7 linked regions of the Homo sapiens genome follow. The protein of the gene in region 7 purifies or fractionates together with the protein of the main gene of each other region. This does not show direct contact. Each region holds a gene or a part of one and is shown on either strand. Other genes may lie near its edges. The genes, in order: PCDHGA9, BAZ2A, SMARCA5, CEP135, CERK, GRHL1 and BEND3.

Region 1 (3,500 bases), on a different chromosome or scaffold from region 7:
CTTAACTTTCTATTATAGTTAGCTTTCTCTTTAACTGTCTGTACTTAAGGTAGTATAAGTTGATATCAGTGTGTTTCTCATCACTTTTCACTGGGCCTAATTGTTGCTCCAACACTGAAAGGAGGCATTTATTAGTTATATTTGCTGATATAACTTTCATGTTCTCATAATAATTAACCTGCTGTCAACGTAAACCATACTTCATGGGGTAGCTCTCAGCCTGCATTGATGTGGGCTTTTTGGGTAGGGTTGCTTCATTGGTTGCAGTGGACTCATATCATAAAATTCTTACTCCTTTTTTTTTTTTTTTAAGAGATGGGGGTGTCATTCTGTTGTCCAGGGTGGAATGCAGTGGTGTGGGTAAAGCTTACTGCAGTCTCAATCTCCTGGGCTTATGCAATCCTCCCACCTCAGCCTTCACAGTAGCTAGGACTGAGGTGGGAGGGCTAGCAAGCTATGTTGCCCAGACTGGTCTCAAACGATCTTCCTGCTTCAGTTTCCCAAAGCACTGGGTGAGGTGTGAACCACCTCACCCAGCAAATTCTTACTCCTACGATCATTTATTCAGGTCATACTATGTTTGTAAGGGTAAACTGATAAAAAGGTAAATGTATTCTTCTTAGAGAAACAGCTGAAAGCCCAGATTTATTGCTTCTATTCTTCCATTTCTATGACAGGAAAACACCTCTTTGAGGTTATATTTTTCAGATCACAAGTGTGTAAAGTCTGTTTGTGTTTACAGATATTTTCTGACGAAGATTCAAACTTCAGTTATCCACTTCCAAACCCTAGTAAACCAATTTTTTCCCTTTAATGGTGAAAGTTGTCACATCTTTTATTCTCATATCTTCAAAGGTCTTAATTTCCTAATGCTTTAATGTTAAATTATGGAGAATAGTAGGACATTCTTCTTTTCTATAGTATATGCTTGCTCAAGAGAAGTTTCTAAGACTGGACACTGTGAAATGACAAAACAAGGAATTAAAAATATTTCTCTCACTTATATATTATTTCTGGCTCAATTCTCCAACTTTTGAGTCTAGAAATGAACTTGCATATCAGATATAATTTAAGAAAATATTCTCAGGAACTGCTGGGAAGATTCTAAAACTATTTTACTGTTTTTAGCTATAAGGAAGAGAATAATGTATTATTTAATGTTATTTTAAACATAGTGTTGTTTCAAATAGTAAATAACATTTCACAAGACATTTGAAAATAAGCTTTGAAGTTGACTCAAAATTCTATGCTAAACATGTGATCCATAGATACACTGATGACTGCTGGCATTTCTGTGGAAATGAAGAATTGTTTTATTTGTTTGTAATTATTTGGGTTTCAGTTGCTTTATTTTTAAGAAAAAAAAGCTGAAGTGTCTGGGAATCCTTTATGACATACAGACATTTTAATTATTTCAAACACGTTTTCCCCCTTAAGTGGGTAGCAAAAAAAATAAAGCATACTTCAGGCTCATATTTTTAACCATGCAACAAGAAAATTGTTACAATTTCTGTTCTGAGGAGTAGCCTTCATACTTAGTATTTATAAATATTGAAATGTATGTTAATTTGGGGAAAACATAACAGATATCCATGAAGGCTTGTATGTCATGGTAGGTAGTTACTATTCGATACCACAAAAATGTCTCTTGCCCTTAAAACCAGAACACGAGGCTCACCAGACAGATGACTGAATGGAGTATGGAAAATCTTTATTTCTGTTTTTCTTAGGCTATGTAGGACTTAACTTATTGTGCATTGGTAACAGATTGTAGAACATAAGCTGAAAGATAAAATTCTTGACCTTAATGTCTCATCTTAAAAAGAAGCATTGGTTGACATTCTATATCTCGTATTACTTAAAAATAATGGGGGAGCGCAGTATATATTAAACAAAGATTGGCTTTGTGGTGATCATTGTTGAAGGTGGGGTGATGGCTATGTGAAGGTTCACTATATATACTCCCTACTGTTGTATAAGTTTGAAATTGTGCATAATAGATTTATTTAAAACACAAAGCATAGAAATATCTACTATAATATTATGGTGAGAGCAAAATTTGAGGGGGATGTACACCTGCATTTTCGAAGAATATATACATTTCGGAGACCGAATTCAAAATGAAAAACCGGGCTGCTGTCCCGCACGGAGCCTCTGGGCGCCGCTGTCGGCCAGTGCAGAGCAAGCGCTGACGCCGGGGATCCGTCAGCCTCTGGCCTGGGATTCCCTGCGCAGCCAACAACAGAAAGAAGAAAACCAGCTCCCACACAGAGCCTCCCGGCTGCGCAGACCTTTCCCAGCACAGCGGATTGCCAGCTCCGAGACCCGGGACTCCTCCTGTCCTGGGCCGAATGCTCTTTTAGCGCGGTAGAGTGCACTTTCTCCAACTGGAAAAGCGGGGACCCAGCGAGAACCCGAGCGAACGATGGGAGGGAGCTGCGCGCAGAGGCGCCGGGCCGGCCCGCGGCAGGTGCTATTTCCTTTGCTGCTGCCTTTGTTCTACCCCACCCTGAGTGAGCCGATCCGCTACTCGATTCCGGAGGAGCTGGCCAAGGGCTCGGTGGTGGGGAACCTCGCTAAGGATCTAGGGCTCAGTGTCCTGGATGTGTCGGCTCGCAAGCTGCGAGTGAGCGCGGAGAAGCTGCACTTCAGCGTAGACGCGGAGAGCGGGGACTTACTTGTGAAGAACCGAATAGACCGTGAGCAAATATGCAAAGAGAGAAGAAGATGTGAGTTGCAATTGGAAGCTGTGGTGGAAAATCCTTTAAATATTTTTCATGTCATTGTGGTGATTGAGGATGTTAATGACCACGCCCCTCAATTTGATAAAAAGGAAATACATTTAGAAATTTTCGAATCTGCATCCGCTGGTACACGACTATCGCTTGACCCTGCCACGGATCCTGATATAAACATAAACTCAATTAAAGATTATAAGATAAACTCTAATCCTTATTTTTCATTAATGGTTAGAGTTAATTCCGATGGTGGCAAATACCCAGAGTTATCTCTGGAGAAACTCCTAGACCGGGAAGAACAGAGATCTCATAGCTTGATATTGACTGCCTTGGACGGAGGGGACCCACCAAGAAGTGCCACCGCTCACATAGAAATTTCTGTCAAGGATACCAATGATAACCCCCCGGTTTTCAGCAGAGACGAATATAGAATTAGTCTTAGTGAAAATCTGCCCCCTGGGTCCCCTGTGTTGCAAGTGACAGCCACTGACCAGGATGAGGGGGTCAATGCTGAGATAAACTACTACTTCCGAAGCACTGCCCAGAGCACAAAACATATGTTCTCATTGGATGAGAAAACAGGTATGATTAAGAATAACCAGTCATTTGATTTTGAAGATGTAGAAAGGTACACCATGGAAGTGGAAGCGAAGGACGGAGGTGGTCTCTCTACCCAGTGTAAAGTAATCATAGAAATCCTTGATGAAAACGACAACAGCCCAGAAATAATCATCACTTCTCTCTCTGATCAGATTTTGGAGA
Region 2 (4,231 bases), on a different chromosome or scaffold from region 7:
AATGGTTGGAGGACACCAGCATAGGAGCAGAGTTTAGAACTTAAGAGGACAAGAAAGCTGCTCAGTGGCTGGCGTATAGCTGTGAAGGTAACCAAACACCAAAGAGGGAGTCTGTCATTTTTATAAGGCTGGAAGCGAATGTTCCTTTTCTACCTTAACATACAGTTTAGGGGGTTGCACCAAGACAAAGTTTCCAGGCTGGAGGGTAATACATATCCAGCGCGAGTGAAGTCCCCACTCCAACATATACCCTTTTTGGGTGGGTAAACACCTCTTTGCATGTGGACAGAAAATGTTTATACTTAAACAGACATATTTTGCATATTTTTATCTGGAGACTTCTTCTAGTTTTATACTCTTCCCACATCTATGCCAATGCCACCATTCTAAAACTTACACTCCTTTTCTACCCCTGGTCTTTTCCTTGTCCTTCCCTACAACTTGGTAGAGGTCCATTTTGTCTTACTTCACACTTTTTTTTTTTTAAATAAAACACAAAAGTCTACGTCTTGGTGTCTTATCCGTGAGTGGGAAGTGGTAAGCTGGTGATGGTCCCATATTTGCTATGACAGGAACACAGAGGTGGCAGCTTAGGAAGCTGGGGCCACATCTCACAAGGCAGGACCTGGATGCACTGAATCCCCCTTTGCTCCAGCAACTCAGCCAGACATTTAGGCAGGAGCACTAATGACCCTTTCCATCCACACAGAGGGTATGGAACAGGAGCCCCTGTTGTTCCCTTGCCTGTGGTCTCTTAAGCCAGTCATACCTATCCCAACGCCGTCTCCCCCTCAGGTGTGTAGAAGGGAAGATGAATACACAGAGTCTTTTGAATCTCTATCAAATGTGGTTTTTTTTATTCAACAACTGACAAGCACTTTTCTACAGCTGCACTTGTGGAACATCACATGGCAAAAACAGGAGTTTTTTCGCTAGACTTTTTTTTTCTTTTTAACCTTATTAAAAATGAGATTGGTCCTAAAAATATAGAAAGAAATAAATTTAAATTCACAAAAAACTGTACATTATCAAAAAGTCACTAAAACACCACATTTGGTTATATAAAAAGTCCCTTTTGCTGTAAAAGGAACACAGAAACTTGTTGGTGTTGATGGTGTGGTTTCTTCCTGTCAACCAGACTGATGGGAGGGAAGCAAAAGGGCAGGGGGTGGGTTGTCTTTTTATTTTAAACCTGCTTTCCCTACCAAATACTCTTGTCATGAAGAGAAAATCCACCTAGCTCAAGGGGGCAGTGAAGATGAGGAAAGAAAAGCAAGAAATGGCCCCTTTGATCATGCCCTATCCCTACCACCCCCAACCCCGCTCCAGCCCCCACTTCTTCAAACTGAGGCTAGGACCCCACCCCGCCATATGAGTGCCTGGTCCCTAGGGAAAGAGATGGAGCTGGGAGAGGAACACAAAGCAGGAACCATGGAGATTTCACTCCCCCATCCACCTCACAATTTCACTCCCCCATCCACCTCACAATGAAATTAATCTAGCACATCTTATACCAGGGGAAAATTGCCAGGGGGAAAAAGCAGAGCCCCCAACTCTAACAGTTTCAACTGTCTAACACAAAGTTTGTTACAGCGCAGTTATTTAGATAAAATATAAATATTTATGCATAATATAAAGTCAATTCAAATATTCTTCAATCCACCTCTTAAAAGCAAAAAAAAATCTCAAATAAAATTAAAAGTTTTGAGGTTTATCTGACAGAAAAGGCGACTTTAGAAATAGGCTATGAGGGAGAAGGGGCATAAAGGAATAAAGGGGCTGCCCCAGGACCTACACTGCCCCTACCCCCTTCAGTGGCTCTTCAGTGCTGCCAGAATACAAGGAATGCTCCACCTCACCTGGCACCCCCACCCCCCAATGGAACATTTCTTGGATGCCTCAGCTCTCTGCTTGGGCCAGCCAGCAGCCACCTCCCCAGTGCAAGTACCCGTAATCTCTGAAGGGAGGGGCTCTGCTGAGCAGGAAAAGCAGGGGGCCAAGTGCCCATGGCTATAGCTGGGAGTCAGCAGCTTTCCTCTCGTGTTGGGGGCTTAACTTGGACATAGTCACATGTAGGGCAGTGATGGACCCAGAACCCCTCCTCCCTACTCTCCTGTGCTCCAGGGTCTCTGCTGCTGGGGAAGGGGTCCTGGGGTATGAAGTAAATGAAGAAAAGCACAACTAAATGGGATTAGGAAATGATCCAGTTCTACCACTCTCCCGTAGAAGCTTAAGATTCAAAGCTACCGAGAAGAGAGGGAGTTCCTGCTGAAAGATTGCACAGTCTGAAGAGGCTGGAACAAAAATGACCAGGAGAGAGACACAGCCTTGTCTCCAGAGAAATTGTTCCTGTGGTTTCCCAAAGACAAAAAAGTGATGGTTTTAAACAATGGGAAAAATGGGAATGAAAACAGGTACTTGGGGAAACTGAATGGATCCTATCAAACAATACAGGGTCACAAGCACGCACACACACACACACACACAGCGCGCGCTCTGAGGCTGACACACACACACACACACACAGCGCGCTCTGAGGCCGACACACACACACACACACACACACACACACACACACAGCGCTCTCTCTGAGGCCGGCCCCATTGCTACCTGGCCTCCATCTTAGGGTGCACCCAAACTCAGCAGTAGTTGTCCCTGAGGAGTTCCCAAGAGGGTTTGGGAAGGAGGTGGGGAAGGAGGCTGGAAGGCCCAGGAAGCCTCCCTGCCCTCTCCCCAGCTACTGAGTTTCAGAAAAGGCTGGAAACTCAGCATGTGAGGAGCATCCAACATCATACAGGGGATAGCTATCGGCAGGAAGATGGGGACAGAAGACAGGGACCTCTGAACATTTTTTTTTCCTTTGAAGGGAAAAGATTTGGGAGAAGAGAAAAGGAGGGAGGAACCCGTACACGATAGTTTTACATTATTGGATGAGAGAAAATCTGAAAACTGGGGGGTGGGAGGTGGGAAAAGAAAGACAGCGAGAAGCAGGGAAGGGACTGAACATGGAAGCAGCATGTCCAGGGCCCGGTGTCCGGCGCGACACACTTGGGAGTTAAGTCCACTTTACTGGCCGTCACTGCGGGTCCGCACACAGTACAGAGTGTTTCTTGGTTTCACACATTCACTAGAACTATTGCTATTGTTAAATAACCCCAGAATGCTGGGGCACGTACAGGGGAGGAGAGGAAGCAGGGAGGAGGAAGTAGGGACGACTTTCCCCCTCCCCATTTTTAATTAGCAAATAAAACAGAAAAGAAAAATTATTTTTTTCTTTCTTTTTTTGGCTTTTAGTCCAGAAGGACCTCATCTCTGCACCTCTTACTTGAGGAGCAAGAGGAGGGAAGGGAGAAAGGGATGTAGGAATAAGAGGATGTGGGGCACTGCCAAGGGCAAGGTCAAAAATCAGGGTTGTATCTGACTTGAGTCTGGACCCAGGGCAGCATCAGCAGGTGAAAATGGCAGGTTTTTGTTTGGAAGGTGGGGGGAGATGCCACAAGGTGACTCCCCACCTCCCTTGCCTCACAGATTGGCCTGTTTTCCCTGATAAAACTCCTCCCAGCGGCTCTCGAAGAAGCGGCGCATGATGTGCCCAGCCTTGCCTACTTCAGAGTCATCCTCGTTGAAAGTCTGGCAGTTGTCAAATACCAGGAGGGCATCAGCCGCAAACTCCTCTGAGCTGGTGTACCTGGACAGGGCAGGGGCAAAACTGTGAGCTGGGTAGGAGTTGCAGCAGTAGCAAAGACCGGGCGGTTCACCCACATCTACTTACCCTCCCCTGAGCAGCCGCTCCCGCATGGTGGAAAAATCCATAGGATTTTTGATGATGCGCCGGTACCCACTCACCAAACGTGGGTTCACAGGCTCTAGGAAAGGCCAGGCTGCATCATGGGACTCCATCTCCATCAGGATAATCCTATCATTAGAGGGACAATGATGGCTCCATCTCAGGAAGCAAATATACTGACCCCTCCCAGCCCTTTCCTCTGGCAGAGGTAGAGCCAACTGTCCCCCCAGGATTCACTCAACTCACTCGCAAAATGTGAGATCACTGTGGTGGTTCCGCATAGAGAGTCGCCGCCGCTTGGAGGGGGAGAGCCCTTCTTCCGAGTACCGAGGCCCTGCTGCTGGGCTTTCTCGGCCCCTCAACAGTACCCGGCGTCGGCGGCCATCACCCTCTGAGAAGTTCAGCGAATAACCACTTTTCCGCTTCTGGCCACGCTTTGGGAAA
Region 3 (3,500 bases), on a different chromosome or scaffold from region 7:
TCTCTTCTTCCCACAAGGATGTTGTCAACTGATCGAAATTTTAACTTATTTTGTTAAATATCATAATAAATCACCAAATTACTATATATGACTCAACCCGTCTTTAAAAACTCTAATTCTGTGACTATTACCACTACACACATTCATCTAAAAATGTGGCTCCTTAAATTTCCAACCAACTCACATTTCAAAATATCTTTTAAAAACAAGAAAATAACTTCTAATGAGAGCACAACCAATGATTTTATACAACCACTCCCAAAAGGGAGAGAAACAAACTACAGTCTTACAGCTTTCTACCATTTCTAATGTCTTCTTCCCAGTATGATTTTTTTTTTTTAAGATGGTCTTGCTTTGTTGCCCAGGCTGGAGTGCAGTGGCGCCATCTCGGCTCACTGCAACCTCCACCTCCCAGATTCCAGCGATTCTCCTGCCTCAGCCTACCAAGTAGCTGGGACTACAGGCCATGCGTGCCACCACACCCAGCTAATTTTTTGAGTTTTTAGTAGAAACGGGGTTTCACTGTGTTAGCCAGGATGGTCTCGATCTCCTGACCTCATGATCCACCCGCCTCGGCCTCCCAAAGTGCTGTTTTTTATCCACCAAGACAATGCTACATTTGTAAATACTAATATTTGCGAAGATCCCGTCTCATTTATCCTTCTTCCAGCTATACCCATACCCAAGCCTGAATTCAAATTATTTTAGCCTCAAAAATGTAATGAAATACTAGAAACTTACTCTTTGTTCTTTATCTCCTATCAAACAAACAGATCTAAGTGTTGGTACCCATCTCTTGAATTCACTCATCCAGTTGTGTAATGTAGACTTAGGAACCAAAACCATATGAGGCCCAGGAATGTTTCTATAATGTTTCATGTACCCAAGAAGAGAAATTGTTTGAAGAGTCTTTCCTAGGCCCTGAAAGATTTCAAAATAACCATGAAGCAGTGAAAAATGAAAATATTATTTCACAATTATACCTCCCAACATATAGAAATGTTCAAAAGAAATGCTACATATTTATAACAGTTAATAAATGGCAAAAACTTAACATATATCAAAGTTTGTAAGTGTTATGTCATATAATTTTCACAAGTCTCTAAAGGAGGTATTATTATCACCCGCATAAGGCCCCGTTTAAGTGACATTCCCAAAGTCATCTAGCAGAGCTAGCATTGAAACACATTTCTTTTGACTTCATACTTTCTCCAACCAATTAAACGTTTTAGCATTATAGCAATAAGGAAACTTTTTTAAACATTCATTACATAACTAGTAGTTAACAAAAGATAAATGTTTTCTAAGAATTGTACAAGCTACCACCTGGAAAAAACATTTATCAATTATAAACAATTAATGACCTCACTTTTGTTTTACAAAACTGGAAGCAAATAAATCATTGTACTATAAAAGTCATCCAAAAACATGTTTCTCAAATGTATTCTTTTTAAATTTATCATATTTTCAGCGATGGAAATTTCTCACAATTAAAATACAGATCACACTTATGCAACTAAGGCAAGCTGCTTATACTAGTTTCTGAGAGGATCCATTTGCTAACAGTTGTAGACTGTAAGAAACTTTTATCAACGTATAAGATATTTTCAATACAAAACATACCCTTCAAAAAAAACTACCAACACATACCATTTCATCTGCAAGGATACCATTGATGCCATTCTCATACAAAGAAATGAGCCAGTTTAATCCTCGGACCTGATAATCTCTCAGTTTACCCCATTTTACATCTAAGAACAAAAGAAAAGCACAATAGGCATTTTAAGACAAGAAATACAAGGCAATCTCTTCATCTAAGCCTACACATATCTACTGACTTTATTTTCATTACTAACGGATTCTTGAATAGGAACTCTGCAAGTTCCAAAATACTAGAGGTAGCTGCCATGGTCTGAAGTGGAAAAGCTGGACATGGAAGATAATCAAGTGCGGGAAACATGACTGCGGGCATCAGAGTACCCACTCCAACAACTCAGTTCTTACGTTACCCATATACTGGTCTGAGAGACTCTTTGGCCTCTCGTCTTTTTAATGAAAAACCAAGTGTTCCTAACCAAGTATTTTCAGCTTTCATAAAGACCAGATACAGGTTATCTGGGGATTTTATTTTCTTTCTAGTAAAAAAAAAAAAAAAAGAAATAGGAAATTCCTAAGTTACTTGTCCAATATATCTTATACATTCCAATGCACTCTCTTTCAGGGTATACTACTTATTTTGCTCCCCAGAATAATTACCAAATATACATAACGGTCACCTGATTTTTCTTTTTTAATATGTACACAGTGTAGCCCTCCATCTCCTTTTGAAAAACACTTGAGGATAAAAAGCTAACCAATAAACAAATACATTTCACAAAAAATTAAATTAATATAAAAACATCAGAAGTAAGCAAATGTGTTCATGAAGTACCTTTTTTAAAATAAATTAGTTTTCTTATGTGGGACAAATATAAAGCAAAACGATCCTTAGATTTACATATACTTCAGGGCAATAACAAACACAATGACATTTTATATAACTTTGAAATACAGCACTACTATCCTGTAATATGCTCTCATCTCCATCAAAATCTGAAGTTTATTTCATAACCAATAAACATCTAAGACTACTAAAAATTTGCTTCACAAATAGTAGCCAACACAAATCCAAAACATTAACCAAAGGAGATCTCAAAGGGCAATTTTTTAAAAAAATCAAGTGTGTTTAACATACACGATGGAGAGTCTTCAAATCGAGTGCAAACATTGGTTGCTTTGGAGCTTTCTGTTAATAGCTCTTCATCCTCCTCTTGCTCTGTTCTACGGTGTCGGTAACTGTTAAGATGAAAATAAAATAACCTGATTTGAGTTTTGGCTTTAATTATCAGCTACTGTTTAAACATCATAGTCAAGTGGCTGACCAAGATTCCACAAAATTAAATTTTTAACAGGCATCAACCAGTGGACAGTAGAAAATATGAGTACATTTAAATCTGCAATGTTTTAAATAATTATTTAAAATATACATTAGTTATTAAAATACACCAGTACGATACATTAACCAGAACCCAATAAACTCAAATATGATAGTCAAATTTCAAGAACTATGTAGTCAGAAAATCTCATTATTTGAATTTTAAAGTGTACCTTTTTAAAAATCTTTTTGCCAAGGAAAAAAAAGTTCCAGAAACCACATGTTTAAAATTGTAACTTCGAGCAAAAGCTGCAGCATAAGGACTCAGAAATTTAAGCAGTGACCACGGATTCATCAAAAAAATTTTTAAATACACATCTAAATTCTACATCCTAAGAGAATCAGATATACTACCCCCTTAAAAACTGATTTTCTAAAGTTTTAATACTGCCAATTAATCTCTAAAGGGCTTGGTTCAGTAAAACTATTAATACTTACTCCCCAATTCTGACACTTTCAACAAATATTTTCATCTTATTTAGAAAAAGGCACGTTATGCCTCTGTTGAGACCGCTGAATCTAATTT
Region 4 (3,500 bases), on a different chromosome or scaffold from region 7:
ATCTGTCCACTCTCAGGAGTCTCCTCTCCCCTCAACTTCAGGCACACAATAAGATGATACACTTTGGCCTTTGTCATCACTCAGAACTCTGCTGGCTTCTAGTTCTTCAACTCCAAAATTCCACTCTGACTGCAATCTTCATAGCAAACAAATTACTTTTGGTACTCATCATGCTCTTTAATCTGTCTTGACCTAGCCTCATAATCCAGCAGCCCCCTGTTACTCACTTAATTTCATAATCTTGATCCCATGGTTCAGCTATCTTAATGATTTTGTCACTAATATTGTAGATTCTACCACCAACCCATACCTGCTGAACAATCACCAACTCTGGATGTGGCCCATCATTTCTTTTTTTTTTTTTGAGACAGGGTCTCACTCTATCACCCAAGCTGGAGTGCAGTGGTGCAATCTCAGCTCACTGCAACCTCCGCCTCCCAGGCTCAAGCAATCCTCCCACCTCAGCCTCCCAAGTAGCTGGAACTATAGGCTTGCGCCACCATGCCCAGCTAATTTTTGTATTTTTGGTAGAGGTGGGGTTTCATCACGTTCCCACACAGGTCTTGAAGCGGCCTCAAATGATCTGCCCACTTCAGCCTCCCAAAGTGGTGGGATTACAGGTGTGAGCCACTGCACCTGGACCCATCATTTCCTTTTCTTGCTCTATAACTACTAAGCATAATGCTAAAAATAGTAAAATAAACTAAGAAAGTACATAATTTCCAAATTCTTTAATGAGTATGGATTACTTTTACAACTAAAATAATAATGATAATAATAATAGAAAAAAGAATTTAAAATATTGATTAGAGAAAGCTCTGGGCATTAAAGTTAGACTAGTATCTAAGTAACTAATACTACATACATTTCTAAGCACACGTATAAATTACTACCCGGATCATTAGAAATAAATCAAGAAGTTTACGGTCTATTCAATATATATTTTCAAACACTAAAGTCTAAGCATGAAAATCCAATCCAAAGTCCTATTTTAGTCAATGGTGTTAATATCGTTAAAAGATTAAATGTGTATAATTTGTCTCGAGAAGGAATCGATTTACCTGGAGTTTGTACTACAGCATGCAAATTCTTTTCTTGAAGTTGTTGAATTCTTTCATTCTTAGCTTTGCTCTCTTTCTCCAACAGTTTGAGTTTATGAGCATATTGGTTATTCAGAAATTTCAGATCAGCTGTTTCACGTGCACATTTCTTCAATGAAGTTTTCAACTCTTAAAATGAAAAAGATTCAAAGACCGTTTTAAAGATCAAGAAATCCAATGAAGTTTTTCCATTTCACAAAATACAAAAAGTCATATCAATTTAAAAGTCTCCACCTGCTTCTTATGCATGCTTTAGTTGACACTTATTCCTTCTTCTACTATTATTAACAAAACTGCAAATAACTCACTAAGCACAAAAGAGAATCTTCATTTTTCAGCTACTGTATTAGCCTAACGTACATCATAGCTTTTGATCCAGTAAATTGGGTCTGAAGCTAAAGGATTATGAATTCATACCATGGATTAGATAAAGTTTTCTACTGAATATAAGAATAATTCATACAAAGATAACCATATAATTATCTTTTCCCTAGTACCTTTGAAATCATCCTATTCTACTTGACAGCTCAAAGACTGACTATAAAACAGTCAGCATGATACATGGTTTTCACCTTATTTACTACTTTTATTTTCAGTAAGGGAAAAACAAAAGTTGTTTCAAGAACATTTCTTCAAATCCAGCATTTAATATTCCCTATGGCAATTTTAATTCTAAAATTTTAATTAAATTTTTAATTCTAAAAATTTAATCCACATATAGTGATTATCATAGCTATATAATGCACATTTATTTTCCTTCTCAGGAACTCTTCAACATACCCTATAGTATTTCAGGGGCTATTAGCAGAAGGAGTACCATATTTTCTTTTCTTTTCTTTTTTTTTGAAACAAGTTCTCACTATGTTGCCTAGGCTGGTCTCAAACTCCTGGGCTCAAGCAATCCTCCCACCTTAAACTCCCGAGTAGCTGGGACTATAGGCACACACCATCCAGCTGTAGGACTACTATATTTTCTAATCAATAGTTTTAAAATTAGACGTTAGCTTTTCCTTCTAAAATAAAAAGGACAAAGACATTGCATTTTAAAAATTATCAAATTTTCACTTACCTTTAACGTGTTGGTCTGAATGTTCTCTCAGTTTCATTAACTCTAGGTATAATTCATTATTTTCTCTACTCAATCTTGCATTTTCAAGTTTATAGGGTTCCAAAACAAAATCAAAATTGGCACTTTCTTTTTCAGCTTTCACAGCAGATAATTTTGATTGCCGAAGGCTCTCAGTTGTATGAACTAAGTCGCTAAAAGAACAGAAAATTTAAATACCAGGAAATATTTCATTAACTTTCTAATAACTAAAAACATATTTCTAAAGAGGCTTAAAATACAGTCATGCACCACATGATGACATTTTGGTCAACGACAGACCACATATAGGAAGGAGAGTAGTCCTGTAAGATTTATAATGGGGGCAGCTGAAAAATTCCTATTGCCTCATGAGATCTGGCCATTGTAACACTGTAGCACAACACAATACCTTTTCTATGTTTAGATATGTTCAGATATACAAATAGGCACCACTGTGTTAACAATTACCTACAGTATTCAGTATAGTAACATGCTATACAGGTTTGTAGCCTAGGAGCCATAGGATACAGACCATATAGCCTAGGTTTGTGGTAGGCGACACCATCTAGGTTTGTGTAAGCACACCCTATGATGTTGGTACAACGAAAAAATCACCTAATGATGACATGTTTCTCAGAACGTATCCCTGTCATGAAACTATCCATGACTGTATTTGAAGACCAGTGAAGCAGACATAGAACTTAAGGGGGGGAAAAAAAAAGAACTTAAGGGAAAAGTGTCTCTCAATTATATCAGAAACCCAAAAAACTGTAATTCCATTCACAGAGAAAACCCCCAGAAATGTTGACTTTGAACAGTACAGCGTGAGTGGTGGCCTTTAGAGTTCTGCCGTGTGGAAGGCCTGGATTGAGGACAGGGAAAAAACAGATAAGCTTCATGATTGAAAGCCTTTCCGGAAAGCTACCCTTTTCTTTACCAAAGCATGAAGTTCAATCAGAAATGAGGTAAGTGGTTAGGGATCATAAAGGTTGAAAACTGTATTTTTGTCTTTACCTGAAAAGTTTTTCTACCAAAGGTAAACACTCCACTGTCAGAGTCTGGCGGTATCCCAGCTGATCCAGCCTTTTCCTAATATTAATATACTTTCTCTCTACAGCTGTAGTCATCTCGTCTTCTAAAACAAGTTTTATTCACTTCCAAAAATTAAAGTCCTGAGAGAAAAGAATGAAACATCATTATCTTATTATAGCTATGATTGTTGTTTCACAATAAGAAGAAAAAATTATTTTAATATGAAGCAATTATTTTTTGTTTTTCTTCAGGTAGGTAGCCTTCTGGAAAATTCAGATTTA
Region 5 (3,500 bases), on a different chromosome or scaffold from region 7:
CAGTTTGGGATTCTTCTTTTCCCCAAAATTCCTAGAGATTTCCCAGAACTACTATTTTTAATGCCCATATCATGGTCCATTATGTGGGCATGCCATATTTATTTAGCCTCTCACTTGTAGATGTTCAGGCTCTTTCCAATTTTTGCTCTTAGGATAGCATTGTTGTACATAAATCTCTCTGCATACATCTACATTTTTAAGGTAAATTCCTAGAAATGAAATTAGTCATAGGAGATTAACATTTTAAAATCTCTGCCGTGTACAGCCATATTGCTTTCGAAAGAGATTCTATTAACTTACATTCTTTTTTTTTTTTTTCGTTTTTGAGGCAGAGTTTCGCTCTTGTTGCCCAGGCTGGAGTGCAATGGCGTGACCTCGGCAGCTTCGGCCTCCCAAGTCCAAATGATTCTCCTGCCTCAACCTCCCGAGTAGCTGGGATTATAGGTGCCCAACACCACGCCCAGCTAATTTTTGTGTTTTTAGTAGAGACAGGATTTCGCCATGTTGGCCAGGCTGGTCTCGAACTCCTGACCTCAGGTGATCCACGCGACCCGCCTCAGCCTCCCAAAGTGCTGGGATTACAGGCATGAGCCACCGCGCCCGGCCAGTTTACATTCTTTCTTATAGTATATTATTTACTGTCTTTGTCAACATGTTTGGTATTATCAGTATAAAATTTCTCTGCTAATTTGACATGTGAAAGTCTCTAATATTTTAAGAAATATGTTTATTGGCTAGCTGGCTTCTTGGAATTGATTTTTATGTCTTTGGCCCATTTTCTTTTGTTGGCCATAATTTCAGTCATTTGTTCTCTTATCCAACAAATAATAGGCAATTCATATTTATATTCATATTTTTGCAAATATTTTTGCTAATTTTGAAATTGTCTTTTAATTTTGCTTATGGCATTAATTCTTCCCAGTAGAAGTTTTCAAATTCATGTACTCAAGTCTGTCCAGCTCTTCTGTGCTGTTCTTTATGCTTAAAATTTCACTCTTCATCTTGAGTTTAGCTATTCCCCTGTAGTTAATTGCCTTGTCATTGGTTGGCTTTTTGTTTTCTTCTCTCTGTTCCATCTGGAGTCGGTGAGCAATGTGTTATAAATTGCAGCGGATATTTATTGAAATCATTATTCATTCCACAAACATTATTGAGGGTCCTCCAGGTCCCAGCACTCTGCTGGTGCTAAGGTTAGAAAGGGAAATAAAAGGAGCCCCTGCCCCCAGGTGCTGACAGGGAGACCCCTTTGCTCCCCTCCTAATGCGGGAGTGTTCTGTTCATGGGCTCCAGGAAGCAGGGGGCTCCTCCATGCACATCTCCCCAACTCCACCCGATGGCAGCTCCTCCATGTACTTCTTCCCACCACCTCCACCCGACAGCAGCTTGGCAGGAAGACAGTCGTCTTCACTTTTCAGCAGGGATGGGGCTGGCACCTTATTGCACCCACCCTAGCCAAGGGATCAGCCTCGCCTCTTGAGGGCACGCCTTCTCCCCAAACCCAGGGACATGCCGTGCAGGAGGCTGGGAGGCCTGGCCAGTGAGGGCTGCTCTTCCTGCGGCTGAGCTGTCTGTCTGAGTGATCTGTCTGTCTAACACACAGATGCTACACTGCCCATTCAAGGATGCCCTGTCCTCGAAACCACAGCCCCGCTGGGAAGGCTGCCCCGGTGCAAGGTGTAGGCTACGGGGAAGGGCAAAGAGCCTTCCCATGGGAGCCGGGCCCAAAGCAGGTGGCCTGAGTGGTGGGTGGTGGGCAGAGATCCCAGCCCTGGAGACTGGTCGCGCCTGCACAGACAGACCCACTGGGGAATGGGCAGGCACCTTGATGCTGTCATGCTTGAGGGAGGCCCCTCAGGCTGCACCCCCTAGTCGACTCACACCGCTCCTCTACCGGCGGACCTTCCCCCTGCAACCCTCTCTTCCCGGGTGATGAGAGCTCTTGGGCTGCCGTAGGCTATAGAGATGTCCAGGAAACCTGAGCCCTGTCCTCTGCCTTCCCTCTGGGCTGCAGTGACATGTCTGTCTCCATGCCTGCACCTCTCATTCTGCCACCTCAGTGTTGGTTCCCTGTGGGTTACCCCCGGCATAGGACAGCACACCCTGAAACCAACCCGTCCTTTCTCCCTTCAGCCACTGTCCCCTTTCTCCATCTCCTCTCCTTAGATTGTCTCATGCCCCATTTTGTCCGCATTTATTCCGTCCCCTCTGCTCTTGCCTTGGGTCCTCAAGACCACCCACACGGCTGGTGATTTGCTGCCTGAGCTAGAGTCGTGCTCTCGGCTGAGATTTCTGACGGGACAGAGCAAGGCTGCACAGCCAGCTTAGCAAAGGAGAAACGTCCCCGCGCAGACTGCTGTGCCTCTCCCGCAGTGCGGGTCACCTGGAGTGCACCCTCTCTGCTCCCACAAATGCAGCAGCACAGGTGTACTCTTCCCGCCCCGCAAACTTGAGTCCTGAGACCCAGAGTGTAGTGTTTTTGAGGGGGTACAGGCATGCAGGCATTCTCTGCCTAGCCACCCAAATTCCAGACTCACAGAAGGAAAGCCAGTATTTGCCATCAATCTCATTATTTGTACACGTGGTCTAGGCCAACTGGCACAGAGGCACGACCTTATCACTTAGGGACATTTCAGGAGCCGCACTTCTAGATGCCTGCCAAGGGCCAGGTGTGCAGGCTGCCCCTCCTGAAGCTGGAAGCCTCAGGCCTGCTGCGCTCAGAGGGCCGCACCTGCAGGAGCCCTGACCGGCTGTGTTCCTCCTGCAGCATCGTCTGTGTCGGCGGAGATGGTATGTTCAGCGAGGTGCTGCACGGTCTGATTGGGAGGACGCAGAGGAGCGCCGGGGTCGACCAGAACCACCCCCGGGCTGTGCTGGTCCCCAGTAGCCTCCGGATTGGAATCATTCCCGCAGGTATGGAGCCGGCCTGGCATTCTCTGTTCTCTTCGTTCCCGTCCTTAGGAATTGTTCTGCACAAGTAGCCACCTCGGACACTTAATAACCCAATTATACTCAGTTTAGTTCGTACAGATTTCCTAACATTAGGGCCACTCTTGGGGGGATATCATTGAGAGTATGACCCCAATGAAATAGACACTCGTGGAAAGGAAAGTTGCCCGACTCCCCCAAAGGCTGCTTCACGCAAGGCAGGAGAACCCCACCGCTGGGGGTGCAGTCCTGGAGTGGGGAACCCCCGGTGCCCGGGAGCAGGTGGGTAGGTTGGCAGGGGGTGCGTTCTGGAAGAAGTGGCTTCTGGACCTGAAGGAACCGGGAGTTAGGGGTGGGTGTGGGCAGGAATCGGGCTGGGGAGTTGGGAGGAGACTGAGTGGGAAAGGTGGGGGCGGAACCAAGGGCAGGACCTAGCCGAGCCCGGGAACAGCTGGGCTGTGTCCTGAAGTGCTGGTTCGGCTTGGTCCATTCAACATCCTTCTAGGAACCACCTTGTTCTTTGAAAAATCACAGTGTTAAGCTAAGTCAAGCTGAGGGCCTGAGCGTGGTGTGTT
Region 6 (3,500 bases), on a different chromosome or scaffold from region 7:
CTAGGCCTCTCTTCTGCAGGAGACCAGTGCCCTCATCTTGTCCTGCAAATCCTAAACTTCAGCATCTTACCAAAGCTCCATCTTTTAATGCTTCAAAGGCAATTGCTTCTTCTCTCTGCAAAAATTACCTCAAGCAGCTAATCTCAGCTGTGCATCAGGAAGAATACTGATTATTTCACAATGAAATGTGAACGCCTCATGGCCTTTAACCTGTCCAGAGACCTCTGACTCTTAACTACCCAAACAAATCTAATTTTGTGGAAGGACAATAAAAGGAATGAAATACGTCTACACAGCAGACAAATCCCACTAAGGGCCTGTTTCTGAGACATTTCTGCTTTTCAAAAAGCAACTTCCTTCTCTTCCACCACTTTGAAAACGAACAAATTTTCACAAGTTCCAAAACTTCCGAAAGTTTCCATGACAATGGCAGACATATGTTTATGGTGATGAATGGAGTGCACACAGGGCCAGTGTAAGATAGGTCCTAGCTTCGTCAGTGTTTTTCCCAAAGTGGAATGTAAGCCAAAGCATTCACAATTCAACCCAAAACATCCTCAAACTATCATCATTTCCAAACGGAGAAGCAGAAGCTACAGGTAAGATTCAGATGTTGACAGATTTTCAGTTTTACTCATCCTGGCATGGCCAAAAGGGTACATTAGAGATCACTAAAAGGGGAGGGGAGGAAATGCCACATAGCTCCAATAAACCCTTATGTTTGTGAGGGAGAAAGAACTGGAAATCATATTAACAAATACCACATAAATATGTACAATTATTATGTGCCAAGTATAAATCTTACAATTAAAAAAAGAAATCAACAAATGCATCCTAAATGAGAACAAGAAAGTGGGCAAAGAAAGTAGATATTTTCAGAAAACAGTAAAAAAAAAAACCAACTATACAGGATTCTGCATGTACACTTGTTCACTCTTGCTGCCCTGAGGCATTAATTACTTTAAGAATAAAAACAGAAAACATCAAGTTGGCCAGGGAAAGCAAAAAACCTCGATACTTAATTAGAACACATGCTTGAAGTTGCTGCCTGATATCAGCTTCAAAAAGACAGCAGCCTCATTAAGAAATGGCACAACACCCTTCTGGCGGCAGGCAAAGGCTTAAAATCACGTCAGTGCTGGGGGTCTGAAAGGGGAAATGAAACTGAGTTTACCTACATCAATTAGCAATGCTATTAAGGCTACTTAAGCCACTCCTCCAACAATATTTCTAATACAAATATGCTGCAGGCCTTCAGAATAAAACAAGCCATTATCCCTACCCGTCATCTTGGCTTTCATTACTCCCACCCCAAAGAGTGACACATCAAACAAACAAAGCGCCCTGCCCATGCGCTGGGCCTTTCGGCCAAGATCTCCAAGCCTATGACAAGCGCTTATTAATCCTGACCACACCCAACGAAGAAGAGCTGGCCACTCTAACCTCGTGACTCTCCTGGGGGATCAAGGGGAAAGGACTGAGCTAGTGAACTGAGGGACTAACCCAAGGTCATGGATAAGTTGGAAAAGGGAACTCAGGACTTATGGGCTCTTTATCGCCTCCTCCACAATTTCTCAGTGAGGCCCCAATGGCAAACAGCAAGTAACACTCCAGTTTGCTTTAAGAATAAAAGCATCCTGGGGCACAAGGCCAATACTTTTCATAGGCTGTTCGTAGTAGCCAGTGGACTGAGTCCTATTATGATATTTAATTTCAAAACAACTGTAACAACAATTATATAAAATGGAAAGTTTCTCTATTTATTGCTTAGCCAAGCAACAAACTCCGGACTATGCAGCCACCTGACAATTGTATGTGACTGAGGTGGTTGGCAGGAAAACCCTTCTAAAGCCACAATCACCTAAAGCTTCCTCACTGCCTGGTGGGCCCAACTGCCTAGAGTCTGCAGCCTGAAAGGCACATGTTTGTCTTGGACATGATGACAACGATAAGAAAGAAAAGCAATTATAATACAAGCAGAACATGGCTCTCAAGACCCAGTCACATGATTTTCAAAAGCATTCTGGGGCAGGATAAAATGAAACCCTAATAGTCAGCACCTAATACAGTGTCTTATTCTAAAAGTTACTAAAATTCTTATTGAATAAATAAAAGAAAAAGTAAAAAACAGAGACTGAGAAAGGACAAGAAGATGAACATCACTTCTTTCTACCAGGTCTCTGAGAGAATGCTATACCTAATATTGTAAGGAAAACTAAAGATCAGTCTTCTGTTAACAACTGTCTGAAAAATCACCTATGTTTCTATTGAGTTTTTTTTTTCTTTTTTTTGGGGGGGACAGGGTCTCACTCTGTTGCCTAGGCTGGAGTGCAGTGGCGTGATCTCAGCTCACTGTAACCCCCGTCTCCCGGGTTCAAGCGATTCTCCTGCCTCAACCTCCAGAGTAGCTGGGATTAGAAGCGTGTGCCACCACGCCTGGCTACTTTTTGTATTTTTAGTAGAGACAGGGTTTCACCATGTTGGCCAGGCTGGTCTCAAACTCCTGGCCTCAAGTGACCCACCCGCCGCAGCCTCCCAAAGTGCTGGGATTACAAGTGTGAGCCACCACTTCTGGCCTCTATTCAGTTTCTTGAGCTCCCAGTTTTTAAAGTAATCCAAAGAAAGAAAGAAATACAGGAACTCTAATAATTGAGTGGAGAAGGATCACACTCACAGGGAAGAAGGCAGGGGCAAGGCAGAAAGGACTTAGGAATATGCTGAATTTTTCTTCAAGGGCACAAAAATTCCCATTAGAGTCGCCCACAAGGAGTAACTCTAGCCAATTAGAGTTACTCCAACTGAACTGGAGGCAACTCTTCAATGGGAAAAGCCCAAGACAGAAGAATCTTAACACAGAGTCATATTTACAAGGTGATGATATGAAACAGAGTACTACTAATAATCACTTATATTTAAGAGCCTTTCTCAAAGCCACTCCAACAGTTTGATGGGCATTGTTTCATTACTCCTTACACCTCCTTCAATAGAGGGAGGAGACAGATATCACCTCCACTGTGCAAATGAGGAAATGAGGCAAAGCAAATGAGGAGTCAGACTCAAGGCTGAACAGGCAGGAGTGGCAGAGTGCAACTTAATCTCAATGTTTCACACACTGGACTCTGTGCAAAGGATGGCAACAAAAATGATCTGTTTTGGAGGAGGGGAGAATAAAAAGGGAAGAGGATAGTTTCATAACACCTGAGAATGAAACACATAAAACTGTGAAAAAAAAAAAAATCAGTTGTCAAATCATTAAACTCCTCCCATTTCTCAAATGGCTGGACATAAGGCGCCCAGACCTCACCACCCACCTTTGCTTCATCGTTGATGTCCCATGTGAAGGAAATGGCGTTATACGCAATCTCCTCGATGTTACTGATAGTGTTGAAGCTTTCTTTATAGTCAGCTACAGGAAGCGGTGGAAGAGAAAATGAAAACTCATGAGTCTTAGTTTCAACATGGGATCCCAGCAGTTCAAAATAAGATCTAGTTTTTAGCAT
Region 7 (2,917 bases):
CGCATCAAGAAGCAGGTGAGCCCCACTGAGATGGTGGCCAAATTCCAGCCGCCCCCTGAGTACCAGCTCACAGCCGCAGAGCTCAAGCAGATCGTGGACCAGAGCCTGTCAGGGGGGGACCTGGCCTGCCGCTTGCTGGTGCAGCTCTTCCCCGAGCTCTTCAGCGACGTGGACTTCTCCCGGGGCTGCAGTGCCTGTGGCTTTGCGGCCAAGCGCAAGCTGGAGTCGCTGCACCTGCAGCTCATCCGCAACTATGTGGAGGTCTACTACCCCTCGGTGAAGGACACGGCTGTGTGGCAGGCCGAGTGCCTGCCCCAGCTGAACGACTTCTTCAGCCGCTTCTGGGCCCAGCGGGAAATGGAGGACAGCCAGCCCAGCGGCCAGGTCGCCAGCTTCTTTGAGGCAGAGCAGGTGGACCCCGGCCACTTCCTGGACAACAAAGACCAGGAGGAGGCCCTGTCTCTTGACCGGAGCAGCACCATCGCCTCAGACCACGTGGTGGACACGCAGGACCTCACTGAGTTCCTGGACGAAGCCTCCTCACCAGGCGAGTTTGCCGTCTTCCTCCTCCACCGGCTCTTCCCCGAGCTCTTCGACCACCGCAAGCTGGGTGAACAGTACAGCTGCTACGGGGACGGTGGAAAGCAGGAGCTGGACCCGCAGCGGCTGCAGATCATCCGCAACTACACGGAGATCTACTTCCCTGACATGCAGGAGGAGGAGGCCTGGCTGCAGCAGTGTGCCCAGCGCATCAACGACGAGCTCGAGGGCCTGGGGCTGGACGCGGGCAGTGAAGGCGACCCCCCGCGTGATGACTGCTACGACTCCTCCAGTCTGCCCGACGACATCTCAGTGGTCAAGGTGGAGGACAGCTTCGAGGGCGAGCGGCCGGGTCGCCGCTCCAAGAAGATCTGGCTGGTGCCCATCGACTTCGACAAGTTAGAGATCCCCCAGCCTGACTTCGAGGTGCCCGGTGCCGACTGCCTGCTCAGCAAGGAGCAGCTACGCAGCATCTACGAGAGCAGCCTGTCCATCGGCAACTTCGCCTCGCGCCTGCTGGTGCACCTGTTCCCCGAGCTCTTCACGCACGAGAACCTGCGCAAGCAGTACAACTGCAGCGGCTCCCTGGGCAAGAAGCAGCTGGACCCCTCCCGCATCAAGCTCATCCGCCACTACGTGCAGCTGCTCTACCCACGCGCCAAAAACGACCGCGTCTGGACCCTGGAGTTCGTGGGCAAACTGGATGAGCGCTGCCGGCGCCGGGACACGGAGCAAAGGCGCTCCTACCAGCAGCAGCGCAAGGTCCACGTGCCGGGCCCTGAGTGCAGAGACTTGACCAGCTATGCAATCAACCCCGAGAGGTTCCGGGAGGAGTTTGAGGGGCCCCCACTGCCCCCCGAGAGGAGCAGCAAGGACTTTTGCAAGATCCCCTTGGACGAGCTGGTGGTCCCCTCGCCTGACTTCCCGGTGCCTTCTCCCTACCTGCTGTCTGACAAGGAGGTGCGTGAGATCGTGCAGCAGAGCCTCTCCGTGGGCAACTTTGCCGCCCGGCTCCTCGTCCGCCTGTTTCCCGAACTCTTCACCGCCGAGAACCTCCGGCTGCAGTACAACCATTCCGGGGCTTGCAACAAGAAGCAACTGGACCCCACGCGGCTGCGGCTCATCCGCCACTACGTGGAAGCCGTCTACCCGGTGGAGAAGATGGAGGAGGTGTGGCACTACGAATGTATCCCCAGCATCGATGAGAGGTGCCGCCGCCCCAACAGGAAAAAATGCGACATCCTCAAGAAAGCAAAGAAAGTGGAGAAGTGAAGGCCCGTGACCTGCCCAGAGATTCGGGGTCACCAGAGGCTGAGCGATGGGCACCCTTGGGACTGAGCAATACTTGGGAGCACGCCTATGGCATCCACAGACAGGCACCTTATGTCCGTGGGGAGTGGCTTACTACATTTGCACACGTAAACACCCACCCAACCGCAAGAAAGAAGCCTTGAGTTTGGTCTCTTGTACTTACAACTTCTGTCCTATGTGCCCCGGCGGGGCAGCCTGAGTGTGGGGAGAGCAAGCTGTGAGGGCAGGGACCAGAGGTTAGGGGTCCTCTCTCCCTGGTTGTGCCCTCCCCAGCCCCTCACAGCTTATAATGCAAACCCAGCAACTCTCTTGCCCCTCTTCCCATATTTTACATCTTCCATTTTGACCCATTTTTTTTTAATTAAAAAGAAACCCTTAAAAAAAATCATTGGGCTCTTTGGGGGCCATTTTACTTAGAAAAAAATCTCTTTAAAAGTGCCATGTTCGTGCACAGTGGCTAATCATAGCTTCAGGTGGCATGGATACTGATTTTACTGACCTTGTTTTTTACATCTGATTTTGGAAGAGTCAAGATGCCCCTTGGATGGCAGTAGAGGGGATGGAATAGTGCGAAGTCCTTTACGACCACATGCAAGTTTTCCCTTCTGCTCTGGTGCCAGGGAAGGCTTCCGTTCAGCTTGGCCTGTCCTTCAGGCGCGTTGGTAGAATGTTGTGTCACTCTTTAGGCGAGAACACTGGATGATGATGATATGAATGTAGACAGCCGTGGAAACACGTTCGCAGTGTCTCCATCTGAGCCGTGTCCTTCCGCTGCCCCCATTCCTTCTCCATACATGGTTGCTGGTTGGAGGGAGTGGACATGTTTCCTTGGAAAACAGTGCAGGGGCTTTTGGCTTCTTGTTAGATTTAAGGGTGGGCCTCTTTGAGCTCACCATGAACTGTTTACTTTTCCGTGTGTGTATTTGTACAAAATCCAGGTTCCGGGAGCTTTGTGGTGACTTCCCCAGACCTCAGTGTTAGCTACTCCAGGCAGTACTACATCCTCATTCCTCAGGGCGGGCCCAGGTCTGGGCCCCTCTTGGGGATACCATGCATTGGAAGGACA

The links.
Region 1: the proteins of BEND3 (region 7) and PCDHGA9 purify together in Homo sapiens (co-immunoprecipitation; one large-scale study listed by IntAct). This does not show direct contact.
Region 2: the proteins of BEND3 (region 7) and BAZ2A purify together in Homo sapiens (affinity purification with western blotting; one study listed by BioGRID). This does not show direct contact.
Region 3: the proteins of BEND3 (region 7) and SMARCA5 purify together in Homo sapiens (affinity purification with western blotting; one study listed by BioGRID). This does not show direct contact.
Region 4: the proteins of BEND3 (region 7) and CEP135 purify together in Homo sapiens (co-immunoprecipitation; one large-scale study listed by IntAct). This does not show direct contact.
Region 5: the proteins of BEND3 (region 7) and CERK purify together in Homo sapiens (affinity purification with mass spectrometry; one large-scale study listed by BioGRID and IntAct). This does not show direct contact.
Region 6: the proteins of BEND3 (region 7) and GRHL1 purify together in Homo sapiens (co-immunoprecipitation; one large-scale study listed by IntAct). This does not show direct contact.

What each region holds. Positions count from the first base shown.
Region 1 is NC_000005.10:141,405,778-141,409,277, forward strand, and holds part of PCDHGA9 (protocadherin gamma-A9 isoform 1 precursor), read left to right. Parts: intron 1-2,243; exon of another isoform or gene 2,244-2,425; coding exon of another isoform or gene 2,426-3,500. Other genes in the region: PCDHGB6 (protocadherin gamma-B6 isoform 1 precursor), read left to right, coding at 2,426-3,500. UniProt on the Homo sapiens protein: Potential calcium-dependent cell-adhesion protein. May be involved in the establishment and maintenance of specific neuronal connections in the brain.
Region 2 is NC_000012.12:56,595,096-56,599,326, forward strand, and holds the end of BAZ2A (bromodomain adjacent to zinc finger domain protein 2A), read right to left. Parts: coding exon 4,034-4,231; intron 3,917-4,033; coding exon 3,773-3,916; intron 3,689-3,772; coding exon 3,523-3,688; 3' UTR 501-3,522; downstream 1-500. UniProt on the Homo sapiens protein: Regulatory subunit of the ATP-dependent NoRC-1 and NoRC-5 ISWI chromatin remodeling complexes, which form ordered nucleosome arrays on chromatin and facilitate access to DNA during DNA-templated processes such as DNA replication, transcription, and repair.
Region 3 is NC_000004.12:143,523,702-143,527,201, reverse strand, and holds part of SMARCA5 (SWI/SNF-related matrix-associated actin-dependent regulator of chromatin subfamily A member 5), read right to left. Parts: intron 2,836-3,500; coding exon 2,735-2,835; intron 1,752-2,734; coding exon 1,651-1,751; intron 922-1,650; coding exon 742-921; intron 1-741. UniProt on the Homo sapiens protein: ATPase that possesses intrinsic ATP-dependent nucleosome-remodeling activity.
Region 4 is NC_000004.12:55,951,945-55,955,444, reverse strand, and holds part of CEP135 (centrosomal protein of 135 kDa), read right to left. Parts: intron 3,360-3,500; 5' UTR 3,315-3,359; coding exon 3,202-3,314; intron 3,055-3,201; exon of another isoform or gene 2,974-3,054; intron 2,361-2,973; coding exon 2,170-2,360; intron 1,230-2,169; coding exon 1,062-1,229; intron 1-1,061. UniProt on the Homo sapiens protein: Centrosomal microtubule-binding protein involved in centriole biogenesis. Acts as a scaffolding protein during early centriole biogenesis.
Region 5 is NC_000022.11:46,707,253-46,710,752, reverse strand, and holds part of CERK (ceramide kinase), read left to right. Parts: intron 1-2,764; coding exon 2,765-2,910; intron 2,911-3,500. UniProt on the Homo sapiens protein: Catalyzes specifically the phosphorylation of ceramide to form ceramide 1-phosphate.
Region 6 is NC_000002.12:9,965,193-9,968,692, reverse strand, and holds part of GRHL1 (grainyhead-like protein 1 homolog), read right to left. Parts: intron 3,407-3,500; coding exon 3,312-3,406; intron 1-3,311. UniProt on the Homo sapiens protein: Transcription factor involved in epithelial development. Binds directly to the consensus DNA sequence 5'-AACCGGTT-3'.
Region 7 is NC_000006.12:107,067,599-107,070,515, reverse strand, and holds part of BEND3 (BEN domain-containing protein 3), read left to right. Parts: coding exon 1-1,812; 3' UTR 1,813-2,917. UniProt on the Homo sapiens protein: Transcriptional repressor which associates with the NoRC (nucleolar remodeling complex) complex and plays a key role in repressing rDNA transcription.